Linked DNA regions of Homo sapiens. The protein of the gene in region 1 interacts with the protein of each later gene in a biochemical or structural test. Each region holds a gene or a part of one and is shown in the gene's direction. Other genes may lie near its edges.

What was found.
Region 2: the proteins of SCN1A (region 1) and FGF12 interact in a biophysical measurement, tested with the Homo sapiens proteins (one study listed by IntAct).

Annotation. Positions count from the first base shown.
Region 1 is NC_000002.12:166,041,021-166,048,020, reverse strand, and holds part of SCN1A (sodium channel protein type 1 subunit alpha), read left to right. Parts: intron 1-252; coding exon 253-394; intron 395-1,044; coding exon 1,045-1,251; intron 1,252-2,693; coding exon 2,694-2,978; intron 2,979-3,971; coding exon 3,972-4,352; intron 4,353-5,596; coding exon 5,597-5,729; intron 5,730-6,551; coding exon 6,552-6,790; exon of another isoform or gene 6,791-6,806; intron 6,807-7,000. UniProt on the Homo sapiens protein: Pore-forming subunit of Nav1.1, a voltage-gated sodium (Nav) channel that directly mediates the depolarizing phase of action potentials in excitable membranes.
Region 2 is NC_000003.12:192,163,544-192,172,404, reverse strand, and holds part of FGF12 (fibroblast growth factor 12), read left to right. Parts: intron 1-1,748; coding exon 1,749-1,947; intron 1,948-8,861. UniProt on the Homo sapiens protein: Involved in nervous system development and function. Involved in the positive regulation of voltage-gated sodium channel activity. Promotes neuronal excitability by elevating the voltage dependence of neuronal sodium channel SCN8A fast inactivation.

The DNA of each region.
Region 1 (7,000 bases):
TTGAAAATGCAAATTATCAACAAAAATTATTTTGTAAAATATTATTAGAAATGCTGCACCATATTTTAATGATGACACCAAGTAGCTAATAAGACTATATGCAGTCAAAAGTTGGGAAATAGATTAGTTACTTATTTGTCAAACTTTTATTTTGAAATACCAAATCTTTCTGACTAGGCAATATCATAGCATAGTATCAGAGTAAAAAGGCAGCAGAACGACTTGTAATACTTTCTTTTACCCCACTTGCAGCCAATGTCCAGAGGGATATATGTGTGTGAAAGCTGGTAGAAATCCCAATTATGGCTACACAAGCTTTGATACCTTCAGTTGGGCTTTTTTGTCCTTGTTTCGACTAATGACTCAGGACTTCTGGGAAAATCTTTATCAACTGGTGAGAACTAAAGAGCCACACTCTCCATTTAAGTAAAAGTATACAAGAAAACCAATTGAGTTATGAAATTAAAACCGGATGATAATATAGTAGAAAGAGCAGAACTTGAAACGAGACTTGAGTTCCTCTATCCTATTGATTATAACACATACTGAGCAGAGTGATGCCAAGGATTGCAATTCTCTCCCATTTCTTCTTGGCTCAAAACCTGTTCCCTACCCTTCTCAGACACAGATTGTCCTAAACAGAAGGCACATTCTCCCTTCAGCCCTATCTACCCCCTCAAATATTATCCCTCAGGTGGGAAGTAATGAAAATGAAAAAGCAGATATAGAAAGATAACTTTGGTCTGTTCCTTGACTTTCCTAAAGGCTCAGGTCGTTAATGGAGGACTCCATGGCATTTTATTGACTGTTTCATTCTTGGTGAATACAAAAATTCTGCCATAGAAATCATAGTGTGAATGCATAAGCTAGAAGAGAAGGAAGAAGCTGAAGTTAAAGAAACAATAAAAAAAAAGTACAGGGTGCTATGACCAACATAATTACTATTTATATCTGAGTTTTGCTAGACACATGAGTAAATTGAAAGTTGAAGCCACCACTTAGTGAAATAATATTGAGAAATAATTCTGATATTTTTGTTTGCAGACATTACGTGCTGCTGGGAAAACGTACATGATATTTTTTGTATTGGTCATTTTCTTGGGCTCATTCTACCTAATAAATTTGATCCTGGCTGTGGTGGCCATGGCCTACGAGGAACAGAATCAGGCCACCTTGGAAGAAGCAGAACAGAAAGAGGCCGAATTTCAGCAGATGATTGAACAGCTTAAAAAGCAACAGGAGGCAGCTCAGGTAAAGCTGCCCTGTCTCATGGCACTGACCTTTTATCGTTCTGATTGTTACGTAATATTGAAGAGAAAGTGAGTACCTAAGAGCAGGTGGTTGTATGAGGAATTAATAATGATTTCTATATTTTGATGATCCACTTACTTTTATTTAGTTTAATTATTTTATTTGAGATGTGTATAATAATAACCACAATAGAACTCTCTCATGCTATTTTAATCATCTTAAGATTCTCAAAGTAAAGGGAAAATGTTATTTTGGGGTATTTTCAAGTGAGAGACTTTTATTCAATGAGTAGACTGGCATTAGGAGGAAATCATCTTTTCTTAGAACAAGAAATTATTGGTTATCATATGAAGAGTTGCTCCTCTAGTTCTTAAACATAGTCTCCTTTTTTCTTTAACTAAAAATATGTTGGCTTTTAACGTGGTTGCTTTATTACCTTTATAAGGAAGTGATCAAATAATATAATGATCTCTGATACAGCAGCATCCAATAGACATATGAATGTTACCAATCTTACACAGATTGACCATCTAAAAAGGATTACTTGTTTTTATAGTGAAGTGTTAGTCCTCACAGTGTGATAAATCATAAAATGCCTCTCCTATCTCTCTCATCTTTCTGTTTAGCATACAAACTTATTGTCTTTACTAAAGAAGAAAGTTGTTTCAGAAATATTAATTTATATGCAAGAGTAATTAATTTATCGAGGTTACCCTGGGAACAATGATAATAATAAAAAAGTGTCAACTTAGTACCAGTACAAGCTATAATCAAAAAGCATTGTTTTATTCCATGCCCATGTGCCCCTTAAGAACCAGTACTGATTTGAAGATGGTGGGGACAGTTTTTGGAGAACTGGATGTCTTATCTTGCTCAGCAGAAACTATTGATTCTCCCTTCCCCATTCTTCTGGATATTGTGGATGGGTGAGAAAGGGATTTTATAACTGTCCATAAATAGGATTAATAATATTTTGAGGGTATTGGACAATCCAATTTCAATAACTAGAGAAAGGACCTCAGGTCCTTATCCCATTCCCCTGCCTTAAACTCATCAGCTTTTCTTCCATACTCGAGTTTCTTTTTCGGAGAAAAGAAAACAACACTAATTAAATACCAATTTTTAAAGTAAATCAAATCCCAAAAAGTAATGAATTTATTTTCTTGTTGATACATGTTGGATATTTTTGAATACGTGGTCTGTGGAGCATTAACAGAGACATAATAAATGTTACCATGGAGCAAACTAAATTATCTCCAAAAGCCTTCATTAGGTAGAAAGAAAAAAAAAATCTCCTCTTATACTTGCAGAGAATCTTCTCTGTGAGATGATCTTCAGTCAGTTCAATATATTTTTTAAAAGCCATGCAAATACTTCAGCCCTTTCAAAGAAAGATACAGTCTCTTCAGGTGCTATGTTAAAATCATTTCTCTTCAATATAGCAGGCAGCAACGGCAACTGCCTCAGAACATTCCAGAGAGCCCAGTGCAGCAGGCAGGCTCTCAGACAGCTCATCTGAAGCCTCTAAGTTGAGTTCCAAGAGTGCTAAGGAAAGAAGAAATCGGAGGAAGAAAAGAAAACAGAAAGAGCAGTCTGGTGGGGAAGAGAAAGATGAGGATGAATTCCAAAAATCTGAATCTGAGGACAGCATCAGGAGGAAAGGTTTTCGCTTCTCCATTGAAGGGAACCGATTGACATATGAAAAGAGGTACTCCTCCCCACACCAGGTATGGCACTGCTGAGTTTACTGATGCATGGTTGAAAATTAAAACATGGGAGAGAGGGGGAGAATTAGAAAATGGACTCAGGAATTTTTATCAACTGAATCAACCACTGTTGTGTTATATTTAAACCCATCCCTTCTTCACATAGTTATGCAAAAACTTTACTCCACAGATATGTAAGTCTACAGCTCGGTGTAGTTAAGATAACACCAAGTTGACAGTCAGGAGAACTGGACTGTCATTCTGATACTGTCTGCTGATATTTGTCTATAACTAATGACATTTAATCTTTTTGATCCTCAGCACTTTTAAGAAAAAAAAAAATGTGGAACTCCGGATAGTCGATCAGGAATGTCCTTAGGTTATTTTATGATTTTATGTTTTTTTTCCCCCTAACTTCTTTATAAGTCACCATGCATGCTTCTGAAAATATTAGTCATGGTACACTTGATCAAAAGGCACATGACTCTGAATTTCAGAAGTATGAACTTCAAGTTCCAACAATACAATGCCTTATAGGTGAAAAAGAAATAATAATTAAAGTGATTTTAGAAAGGTGGACTAAAGTAAATTGTGAGGAGTGTTGAAAGTTTTTGAAAGACAAGATCCATAAAAACCAAGGTGGCCTTGTTAAGGTCATGGTGCCAGTGTTCACTGAATGTTTACCACGTCCATTGCCATATTCTAAGGATGTTTCCCTTTGAACTTGAGAAATGGTCGTTCAGGGTGTGTGTGTATGTGTGTGTGTGTGTGTTTCAATATGTTAAGGTTGCAATCTATCTCCTCATTCTTTAATCCCAAGGGCTAGAAACTTTCTTTTATCAAGGTAATTTAATTTAATGTGAATGCACATAAAATGAGAATGATAATCAAAAGGAATGAACCATATTCTGTTATGAATGCTGAAATCTCCTTCTACATAATCTTGCAAAATGAAATCACATTCAAATGTCCATATTAATATGACTTTATTTGTTTGCTCTTTCAAACTTCTAGTCTTTGTTGAGCATCCGTGGCTCCCTATTTTCACCAAGGCGAAATAGCAGAACAAGCCTTTTCAGCTTTAGAGGGCGAGCAAAGGATGTGGGATCTGAGAACGACTTCGCAGATGATGAGCACAGCACCTTTGAGGATAACGAGAGCCGTAGAGATTCCTTGTTTGTGCCCCGACGACACGGAGAGAGACGCAACAGCAACCTGAGTCAGACCAGTAGGTCATCCCGGATGCTGGCAGTGTTTCCAGCGAATGGGAAGATGCACAGCACTGTGGATTGCAATGGTGTGGTTTCCTTGGTTGGTGGACCTTCAGTTCCTACATCGCCTGTTGGACAGCTTCTGCCAGAGGTGATAATAGATAAGCCAGCTACTGATGACAATGTAAGGAAGTTTTAAATAGTTCAGGCATGGCTGGCTCACTATTGCTGCACCAGCCAGTGTTTCTACAGAACGGCAACCTTGAGAATGATTCCTGGTTGGTCACGCTGTGAATGCACCTGCATCTTGTAATATCTTTAATAGACTAACCAACTAAAACTTAAAACCTTAGCAGTCTCCTGCACAAACCTGAATGCATTTACTTATTAAAAGTGCTAAGGATTGATTAGACACAATAATTACTGCCTCCAGTTGGAGGATTTGCTATATACCCACACTGAATTTAGATAGCAGGACATTCTCCAAGGCTCTGGTATGAAAGTAAATGAATGATTCTATGTTTAAGTGTCAAGGGTATGTAATAAATCTTTCCAATGGATTCTTCAAGATCTCTGCTTTAGTTTAGATTTTCAAAAACACTGCTTAAGTAGATAGCTTCATTGTTACCTTAATACTCCTAGTACTCATATTTTTCTTACTAAAAAATGCTGATATAGGTCTTCTCAAAATTAAATGAAGAGACACAAATACATTATTAATACAGACAGATAAAATAATTGTCTGTGTACAAAGGTATGTTATGTGTTTGTGGATGTATACTCAGATGAGGAATTTCTAAACAGATGCTGCCTCTTCTTAGACTGTTTACTCACTTGGAAATATATCAGCATGAGGAGGCATGACTAAGTCAGAATTAGATGACTTATTGCTTTGGTACCCTGGATGAAACTGTTGTCCATGCAGCATGTGTGTGTTCTTTTTAACATAGAGTTTGTGTTGTCAATGACCATCTACATCTTGTGTCCAGAAAATAAGATGGCAGCTAAGTGTGTTGCAATCATTTATACTTCCTTAAAATTAAATAGCTACCTTCTCAAAAATCAAGTGCCTTGATCACTTGTAGGACTTTTAAGTTACTAGGCTTTTACTATTAGTTCAGAAATAAGGGTAATAACTGTTAAATATATCTCTTAAGAGTTTTATCAACTATATTAAAATTATTTTGTATTTTATAAAATTATGAAATCAGGAAGTTAACATCTTGGTTTTTGCTGTATGACTAAATGGTTAACAGTTTGAACATTCCAGGCTAATGATACAATAAGTCAGAAATATCTGCCATCACCAATTGAATATGAAAGTGCATGATGCATGTGTTTCATGAAATTCACTGTGTCACCATTTGGTTGTTTGCTTGTCATATTGCTCAAATTAATTGTTTAATGCATTAGCATTTTTTTTTACAGGGAACAACCACTGAAACTGAAATGAGAAAGAGAAGGTCAAGTTCTTTCCACGTTTCCATGGACTTTCTAGAAGATCCTTCCCAAAGGCAACGAGCAATGAGTATAGCCAGCATTCTAACAAATACAGTAGAAGGTTGGTAACAAATTCTATTTTCGTTTCAATTATTTTCACCAAACTTATATTGTCTCATTTCAAACAAATATATTTGTGAGTTGGGAATAGTGCATTCTAATGAAAAGACAGTCTAATTCAAGAGCTGTTATTTCTTATATCTACTCAGATATTCTAGAAGCCTTAACAATTTATTTTAAAATGAGTGATATTGGGACTAAGAATGTTTTCCTAACTGTGTAGCAACTCTTTGAAAATGCAGAACAAAGCATTTCTGTTAGGGGTTTCTAATCTCATTAGTCATAGTGACCCTCTTTTTGTTCCATTAGTTTAAGACTTCAGCAGTACAGCCCTTTTCAGCCTCATCCTAAGTACTCTCAAGATTGTAGAGGAAGAGCAGGTCATTTTCACAAAATAAAAACAAGCTAAAAAGATGATTCTTGGGTCACATCAATCCCTATTCTAGCTCTCATAGTCTGAGGTTGACAATGTAGAGTCATTCACATAGGGTTGCACACACAATATCTACACCACCCTAAACCATGTTCCCATTGAGACGTCACATGAAAGACCACTCATTTAACTTGAGGCCAAGTGCTGAGCCACAATGTCAGTGCATAAGACAAAAAACTACCCATTGTTACCTGGGCTCTATGTGTGTGTCTGATGAAATATCCTTGGGAGGTTTAGAGTAAACTGTAATTTTTTTAACAAGTACAAAAAAGGTTGTCTCTGTAACAAAAATGTGTTGATTACTGAAAATAAGTTTAGTGGATATGAAATAAATGTGTGTGTATAAAGTATACCTTTTGGTGGTTCTTTTTTTTTTTTTTCTTAATCTAGAACTTGAAGAATCCAGGCAGAAATGCCCACCCTGTTGGTATAAATTTTCCAACATATTCTTAATCTGGGACTGTTCTCCATATTGGTTAAAAGTGAAACATGTTGTCAACCTGGTTGTGATGGACCCATTTGTTGACCTGGCCATCACCATCTGTATTGTCTTAAATACTCTTTTCATGGCCATGGAGCACTATCCAATGACGGACCATTTCAATAATGTGCTTACAGTAGGAAACTTGGTAAGCATATTGGAAGGTAAATGTGTTTAGTCTTCAAATTTTCTGCTTGAAAAACTGTTTACATTTAATTGTGTATAGCAGTCTTTCAACCATCCTTCATGCTTCCTGGCCCCTGCAAAATCGCAATTATATTTAGCTGGCTATACTCTACTTTTTTGCCAAAAATAATCACCCTTAATGTGCTCACAAAAACTGAGAAAGGCATAGGCC
Region 2 (8,861 bases), on another chromosome or scaffold:
TTTTTTGAAGGGGGGGTTGAGATCCATTTCACTGTGTCACCCAAGCTGGAGTGTGGGGTGTAATCTCTGCTCACTGCAACATCCACCTCCCTGGTTCAAGTCATCCTCCCACCTCAGCCTCCCGAGTAGCTGGAAATACAGGCATCTGCCACCACACCCAGCTAATTTTTGCATTTTTAGTAGAGACGGGGTTTCACCATGTTGGCCAGGCTGGTCTTGAACTCCTGACCTCAAATGATCTGCTTACCTCAACCTCCCGAAGTGCTGGCATTACAGAGGTAAGCTACCACACCCCAGCCTACTCCAGTTTTCTTAGTCTCATTTTTCTTCGTCTATAATGTTGGAACTATTCAAAAACAAGCTGGGTGCAGTGGTACACACCTGTAGTTCCAGCTACTTGGGAGGCTGATGTGGGAGGATCTTCTGGGCCCGGGAGTTTGAGGCCAGCCTATGCAACATAGCAAGACCCCACCTCTTACAAAAAGAAAAAGAAAAAAAAGGAGAGAGGGAGAGAAAGAGAGAGAGAGAGCACTCTCTACAAATAAGGAGATTGGCATGGGAGTATCACCTACAAGGACATGGCTTCAACCAACCTATATTCATTAATATTCCTATATTCATTAATAACTTAATTCCAGGTTTGCTTGCATTAAATCATGGGAGTCTCACACTGAAATTCTTCCAGTTCATGGAGAGGAAGATGGTGACTGTGGTGAATATGTCTGACATGTAGGACTCCTGTTTAATTGCAGCTGAAGAAGATGCAATAGCATTTGTTTTTCTTCTGCTGATCTCAGAAGGGGAGAAATTTCTTCCTTCCACACAATACATTTTGTTCATGTGACATGTTAGGATATGATTTTATTGTATTGATTTTTAAATCTCATTATAAGTCACTAAACAAGACTCAGGCAGAAAAGGTGAGCCTGAGAGACTGTGATTGTGAAGCAATGAATGTGAGCTCTGGCATTGACTCAGTAGTTTCTTAAATGTGTATTTGAATTAATCACGTGACCTTTTGGTTTTCTCACTTACCAAATGCTGGAGTTGAAGTACAGGATCTTACAGTTTCTTCTGAGACTAGAACTCTCATTCTGTGTTTCACTGAGGTCAATAGTAATAGGAATTAATACTATTAGTAATTTTCTTCAATATAATAGTAATTTTTTTCTATTATTCCTGGGCTTTTTACCTGAGATTTTGATTACTAAGGAAAAAAATGTTTTAAGGAAATTAGAGAGGAAGTTACTGACTTTAGGAAAAGTGGTGATTTTCCTGACCAAGCTGTGGCTGTGTAATACATTTGTATATACAGAATAGTCTCTTCAAAAGCACCTTGTGTGCCTGTGTTTGCTGTGGTTATATTTGATTTTGATTTCCAGGATAAATTTTAGTTCCTTATTTACATGTTAAGGGTGAGTAAATGAGGAATGGCCAATCACTTTAGTTTACAAAACATATTGCTAGGATCGGAGCGCAGACTTGGCCACAGTCCTGAATGATTTTAACGTAGCTTCAAGCCTGAGCAAGTTATTATCTCTGGGCTGAAGGTTGGCTAGAAAGGCAATCATGTTTTTTGATTTTGTATGATGAATCTTTGTAACCAAAGGCTAATAGAAACTATGTGTCATTGCCTTTCATTTGTTCTTAACAGAGGACATGGATTTCAAGCTTATTGGATTTAAGCATTTGCTGATTCACCTTTAAATCATTTCTCTTTTTTGTGTCTTTTTTTTTTTTTCCTACAGGATGTTTTCACTCCAGAATGCAAATTCAAGGAATCTGTGTTTGAAAACTACTATGTGATCTATTCTTCCACACTGTACCGCCAGCAAGAATCAGGCCGAGCTTGGTTTCTGGGACTCAATAAAGAAGGTCAAATTATGAAGGGGAACAGAGTGAAGAAAACCAAGCCCTCATCACATTTTGTACCGAAACCTATTGAAGGTATGAAACCAACTGACTGTCTTTGTTGGACCCTTATCTGTGTGTTGACATCAATTCTGCTTCTTGCCCTTTTGGTCCAGAGAGTTTGCCTGGAATGCAACAGATCAGAAGAAAGATTCAAAAGAAATATTCAGAGAACACAATAGTATCTCTTCCTTTTTTTTTTTTTTTTTCTTTTGAGGCAGAGTCTTGCTCTGTCGCCCACACTAGAATGCAATGGCTCAGTCTCGGCTCACTGCAACCTCCTCCCGGATTCGAGCAATTCTCCTGCCTCAGCCTCCGTAGTAGCTGGGAATCTTTTCCTATTAAAAAAAAAAAAAAGGAAAATTCTATTACAAATACTTGGCACTTAAAAAAAATGCCTGAATATAGAAGCCGGAAAAATTTTGAAAGTAGAAAAGAAGTGGTAGTTACTATCTAGTATGCAGTTTCCTCCTTTTCTAAACCTAATAATTTCCTTTCTCAAGATACACCCTTGAAAAACAAATGATACTTTTATATTTACCGTATTGCACTGTATCCTTCTCAGGTGAGCCTATAACCTTTTCTCTCGTAATCATTTAATTCTCTGTTCATTTATTTCAAACTGACCATTAGAATAAACTTTTTTGTTTTTTTTTTTCTGAGGAAACCGATTTTTGGCAGCTAGGCTATGTTCCCTCAGAAATTCCTTAGCTAGGATGAGAGCATATCATTTGGGTAACCACATTTCCTGAATTCAGCCAAGCTTTCTACTACAGGCTGAGTAAGCTTGTTTCTCCTCTGAAAGTCACATTATAATCACTTTAAACATTGGCTCAGCATCCTCGTCTGAGGAAATGAGAAAATTGAGGCAGTGCATTGCAACTCTGTGGCTTAGTCAAGCTTGCTGTCCCCTGAATATCTCATATGGCATGGTCAGTCAATCAGTGTACACAATGCCTGGTGCATAGTACATAGCACGGTGACTGCAAACATTTAAGTCAATACTATCTTCCAATGTTCCAAGCACTGGATGAAATGTGATATTCAAAGCCCCTAGCCCCTCTCAGGACCCTCTTCACATGCTGTGTATTCAGCACATGAAATGAACTTTTCTTTCCTGCAGTATATTTTCACTTTATTTATTTATTTATTTGAGATGGAGTCTTGCTCTGTCACCCAGGCTGGAGTGCGGTGGTGCAATCTCGGCTCACTGCAGCCTCTGCCCCCTGGGTTCCAGCGATTCTCCTTCTTCAGCCTCCTGGGTAGCTGGGATTACAGGCACACACCACCACACCCGGCTAATTTTTGTATTTTTAGTAGAGACAGGATTTCGCCATGTTGGCCAGGCTGGTCTCAAACTCCTGACCTCAGGTTATCTGCCCACCTCGGCCTCCCAAAGTGCTGGGATTACAAGCGTGAGCCACCATGCCTGGCCTATTTTCATTCTTATTGGGCTCATTTTGTTCATCACCCCTGCTCCTTTAGTTTTTATCCATTTATCTCATCTGCCTGGAAAATGTCTATTAGTCTTTGGAAAAAAATAATTCAAGAGTCAATACTTCCATGATGGCCTTCTTGACTTTCTTCAAGTAGAACTAAACATTCGGTCAGCTTGTCATTGCATACATTTCTCTCCCATAGAAATTATGACATTAAATTTGCCCAATGCCACTCTGTCTCCTCTTATTCATGGTTAGCTCACTCTTTGAATGAACAGAACATGTTTTATTTTTCTTCATATCTCCCTTTGTCTTCTATAATAGTTGGCATATCATAGAGAGATATTTGATAATCAGTTGTCTGAAAAGTGAACATGTGAATGAATTAATGAATAGAAAACTATAAAGACAAAGAAGAATATATGCGCCAGAGAACTTTATGATATTCTTAGAGGTGTGACATATGTTTACTCAGAGCAAAAGTAAAATGTTAAGTGATGCAATATATAGGATTTATATTGGGACTCAGAGAAAAAGGCTATTATTTTCCCAAAAAGTAAGATATCATTGAGAAGCTAATATTTAAACTTACCTTCAGGGCTAGGCCAGGTTCCTGCAATTTGAGATGAGAGGTAGGGATTAGGCAGACAAAAACATTCCAGGTGCAGTGTGAATAAAGGCAGGAAAGTGCCTGCTTCTTAGGGTTAAGCAAAGGGTACCTGAGAAGTAAGTAATATTTTCACAGGGAAATATATGGATTCTCAAAAATGAAATGTTTGATGAATTATGCTCTTAATTATTGCATCATTTTTATTTGTTCATTTACATTGATTTTCTTCTTGTTATAAAAGTAGTACAAGGTCATTAACAATTTTGGAAAATTTAGGAAAGTATGAAGAAAAGAAATCCACGTGTTGTGTTTATTCCCTTTACGGATAATGCCCTTTATATTCAACTTCACCCTCATGACCCCACTTAAAAATACACCTAGGCCAGGCTTGGTGGCTCACGCCTGTAATCCCAGGACTTTGGGAGACCGAGGTGGGCGGATCACGAGGTCAGGAGTTTGAGATCAGCCTGACCAACATGGTGAAACCCCGTCTCTACTAAAAATACAAAAATTAACCGGGCGTGGTGGCACGTGCCGGTAATCCCAGCTACTCAGGAGACTGAGGCAGGAGAATCAAGGAGGTGGAGATTGCAGTGAGCTGAGATCACGCCACTGCACTCCAGCCTGGGTGATAAAGCAAGATTCTTTCTCAAAAAAAAAAAAAAAAAAAAATTTTATATATATATATATATATATATATATATATATATATACCTATAACCTACCCTCCTAATTTTAGCTGCTATCTGTACTTTGGTTAATCAAGTTTCCTCTTGGGTCTGGATGAGCATGTACGTGTACAACTGGACATTCCTATATGGATTAGAATTAAGGTTGTCTTCACACAACACAAACTCATATTAACAGCAGCTTAATCATATAAAGTTTTTTATTCTCTCACAAAACAAATCTAGAGACCAGCTATCCTAGCTGGTACTGTGCTTTTCCAATTGGTAGGGCCTTGGCTGCATCCAGCTTTTACTACCTCTCTCCCAGTGTTTTGCTACGGCTTATTTACAACTGTGCACTGCACCCGGAACACAACCACACATGCTGGCCCTGGATCTGCCCTTCTGCCCATGATCCAACCAGCATCTTATTCCAGCCAGAGGGCAGAGGAGAGGTGAAGAAGACAGAAGGAAAAGCCAGGGCCAGTTTTCTTTCCAAGTTGTCCATGGTAACTGCCATATGCTACTTATCGCACTGGCCACAACCTAGTCAGGTAGTCACACTTAGGTGTAAAGAAGCTAAGAATGTAGTCTTTTTTTTTTTTTTTTTTTTGATAGCCATATACCAAATAAATGTTCTGTGACTAGGGGTTATGGCACAATGGGTATTGAGACACTAAAAACTCTGCTTCAGGCTTCCATCCTCTTAATTTTAGAATATCTCTGATTTCCTAATTTTCTGATTGACATCTTTTGGTAGATTATCGTGTTTTTACTTTATGTTATTGACTGATCCTTTAGAATGATTTTCTTTTTGTTCTGGGAAAAAAAATGCATTCTAAATCAGATTCACTAATACTTTGATTCACTTCCAAGGATTTTTGTCTCTCTAGGTGTGAAGCATATAGAATATGATGATAATTACTTCCAAAAATGAAAAAAAAAACTTAATTGGTTTTAGGCCAAACACCTTCTCATTCCCTATAAATGTCTTTATCTTTTGTCTTAGGGAACTAACTTTATTGAACAATCTTAGCTAACAGTTTTATAAATGCTTACTCTGTGCAGGTGCTATTCTAAGCACGTCTCAATTACTGTCTCTTACTTTCCATTCCATTTGTACGAAGTAGGTTCCAGTATTATCCGCATTTACAAATGTGAAAAATGAAACACAGAGATATTGAGTAATTTGTCCTAAATCATGCAGCTAGCAATTGGCAAAGCCAGAAATGAAACCAAAGCATTCTGACTTGAACAATCAAGTTCTTAAACCCCATTTAAAACTGGTAAGACAGGCTACAGTCTGAGGTCTGAGAAAGATGTAGATGTAACTTCAATATAGTGGGACCTAGTAAATGATCTTGAATAAATGTCTCCTAATTGCTTCTCTTTTTAAAAATCTGCAATATATCCCTACCCCTTAGAAATAAAAGTTCTTGCAGATTAATGGAGATCATCACACTCTTGTAACTGACATGAAACACATGAAATTGGTTGGTTCTCTTCTGCCTCCTATGTGCTTTGATGTCCTTATAATACAGAAAATGTGAACAATTACCTTATGATTCTCCATGCAGTTATACATTATATCCTTAAATGATTTTAACAGGTTACCATTACTATCAAAGATATGTACACTTGAGGTTGTGTCAGGCATTAATCCACTGGACATTGAAACCTTTCTCCTCGCTGCTGGGATACTCAAATTATTTTTGCTGCCACCATTACTGCTATTACTAGTCTTACTACTTCTGTATGCAGTTTATCAATTTACTATTTGCTAGCCAGGTTGCGTATGTTATCTCTGTTAAGCCTCACAATAGTTCTGTATTTTTATCCTCATTTTATAGATGAGGAAACGTAATTTAAAGTAACTAAGTAACCAGTCCAAGACCACAGGGCTAGATAAATACAGAACTGGGGTTGCAGTCCAGGAACCCTGATGTCACGTAACCTCTGTACTATGTTGCCCTTCAATCTGAAGTAAGCCTGTGAATATGCAAATACTCAGAAAAGTCAGTGATAGCAAAGCAGAAACCTTATACTATGATGCAATTTGAATAGTAAACTAGTTTTAAATCATGCAAAATTGAGACAGGAATACATGATATGATGAGAAACACATTGGTAAACAATCAGATAAAACAGTTAATGGAATGCCATGTTCAAGCTAGGCAAGAAAGAATTAACAATGCATCACTTCTTTTCTGGTGAATTCTAACAAGGTTTATTTCCACTCAGCAAAAAAAAAAAAAAAAATTGGACCAGATGATTTCTAAAGTTCTTTGGCAATGACATTGTGTGGCAGTCGTTATAAGCCCTTCACTGTAAAACCATGTTCCTTCATAGAACCTAGCCTAGAATTTACATGTAAAACTGGTCTAAACATATTTTCTTTATTGAATTATTGAAAAAATAAATTACAGCTTTATGAGCTATTTCCATTATTTGTGATTTTTTTTTTTAATGAAGGGATAGGATGAAAGGCATCCTAGCCATAACTTACATTTAAATAGATTTTAGGACAGACGCAGTGGCTCATACCTGTATTCCCAGCAATTTGGGAAGTCGAGGCAGGTGAATCACTTGAGGCCAGGAGTTCAAGACCAGCCTGGCCGACATGATGAAACGTCATCACTACTAAAAAATATGAAAATTAGCCAGGTGTGGTGGTACACACCTGTAATCCCCGCTACTTGGGAGGCTGAGGCAGGAGAATCACTTTCAACCCAGGGAGTCGGAGTTTGCCAGGAGCTGAGATTGCACCACTACACTCCAGCCTGGTCAACAGAGAAAGATTCTGTCCCAAAAATAAGTGAATAAATAAATAAATAAAGTTTTCGATAATATTTTTCCATAGGGCAGGTATAAAGCACATAACTAGATGACACTTTTAGAAAACGATTAGAAAATGATAGCATAAGAGATTAGCTAACTTGCTGCTAATGGGTTAACCAAAAAAATTATTGACTATTTTGTTTGTAATGTTTAAAGGCATCTTTGTAACCCTGTAAGTCCAATGGTAATACTGTTAACATCCTAACAGAGTCCAGCACTGCACGGTAAATGAGCCCTTCCTTTGTGAAGGGAATTGTCCTCTTAGGGAGGAAAAGCCAAAGTAGGGTTTTTTTTGGCTTTGGGTTTTGCTTTTGTTCTTTTGTTTTTTCCTGCTTATTTGTTTTTCACATATGTCTGCCTTTATCCCAGTCCTGCTGGTGTTGTCTTTTGAATGTCACGATTCCCAAAATTAAGCTCTGCCAGTTTGAGGATGGTTAAGTCCTACACTGATAACATGATAATAATTACCCACCAGCCCATTTCCCTTCACTCTTTCACGTCTCATCCTGTGTTTAGAGAACAGGAGCGTTGATGAGGGGTTTCAGGGTCACCTATTCTGATAGATGGCCTTGATGTTTAAGCACATTACTATGTACATTGCATATAAACCTCTACTTACATGGGTCCCCTCCCCTGGAATTTTGGACAATAGCACAGGCTTCCTGATTCTCAATTCTGCCCTTTCAGAGTATTGTTCAAAGCACAGATAAGTAACTTCCCCAGATGTAAAGTGTTTTAGTGGTGACCTCCCCCTTTAGCATCAGATATAGCAGTCAAATACTCTTTGACAAAGAACAAAATATAGTCTCCTCCTTTTCTCCTCCCTCCTCCTTCAAGAAGCACATTGCTCAGCTACTGCAGGTGGCTGAGTATTTAGGATCTGGTTCTTCCCTTCTGAAAAAAAAAGTCTGTGTACTTTGCAAAGATTTAAGCTTCAAGAGCTGAGACCTGGAGAAATAAATATATTTCCAAATAAGATAACTAAGAATCATTTGAGAGCCATCCATACAGAAGTATTAAACTTGGAATAAAGGAATATTGATTTATTTCTCCCAATTTATTTGGTAGTGGGGAGACAGTACTAACACACACACACACACACACACACACTCACACACACTTGGCCATATACATGGTTTCCATTTTCTTTGTTAGAATTGGTGCTTTAAGCTCATAGAATCTGATTTAAGACTCAGCAGAATGTAAACTGTCATTTCCCAAACATCAGTACCAGAACCATCTGTAGTGTTCCTAGAAGCTAACAGATTCTCAGAGCAAATCTCCAAAGTGATCTGATGTTTGAAACCTATGTATGACCTAGGACTCTATAGGTTTAAAACGCTGTCCAGGGGATTTCTGATGGCATTGAGTTTGAGATGCAGTGTTCTGAATTTG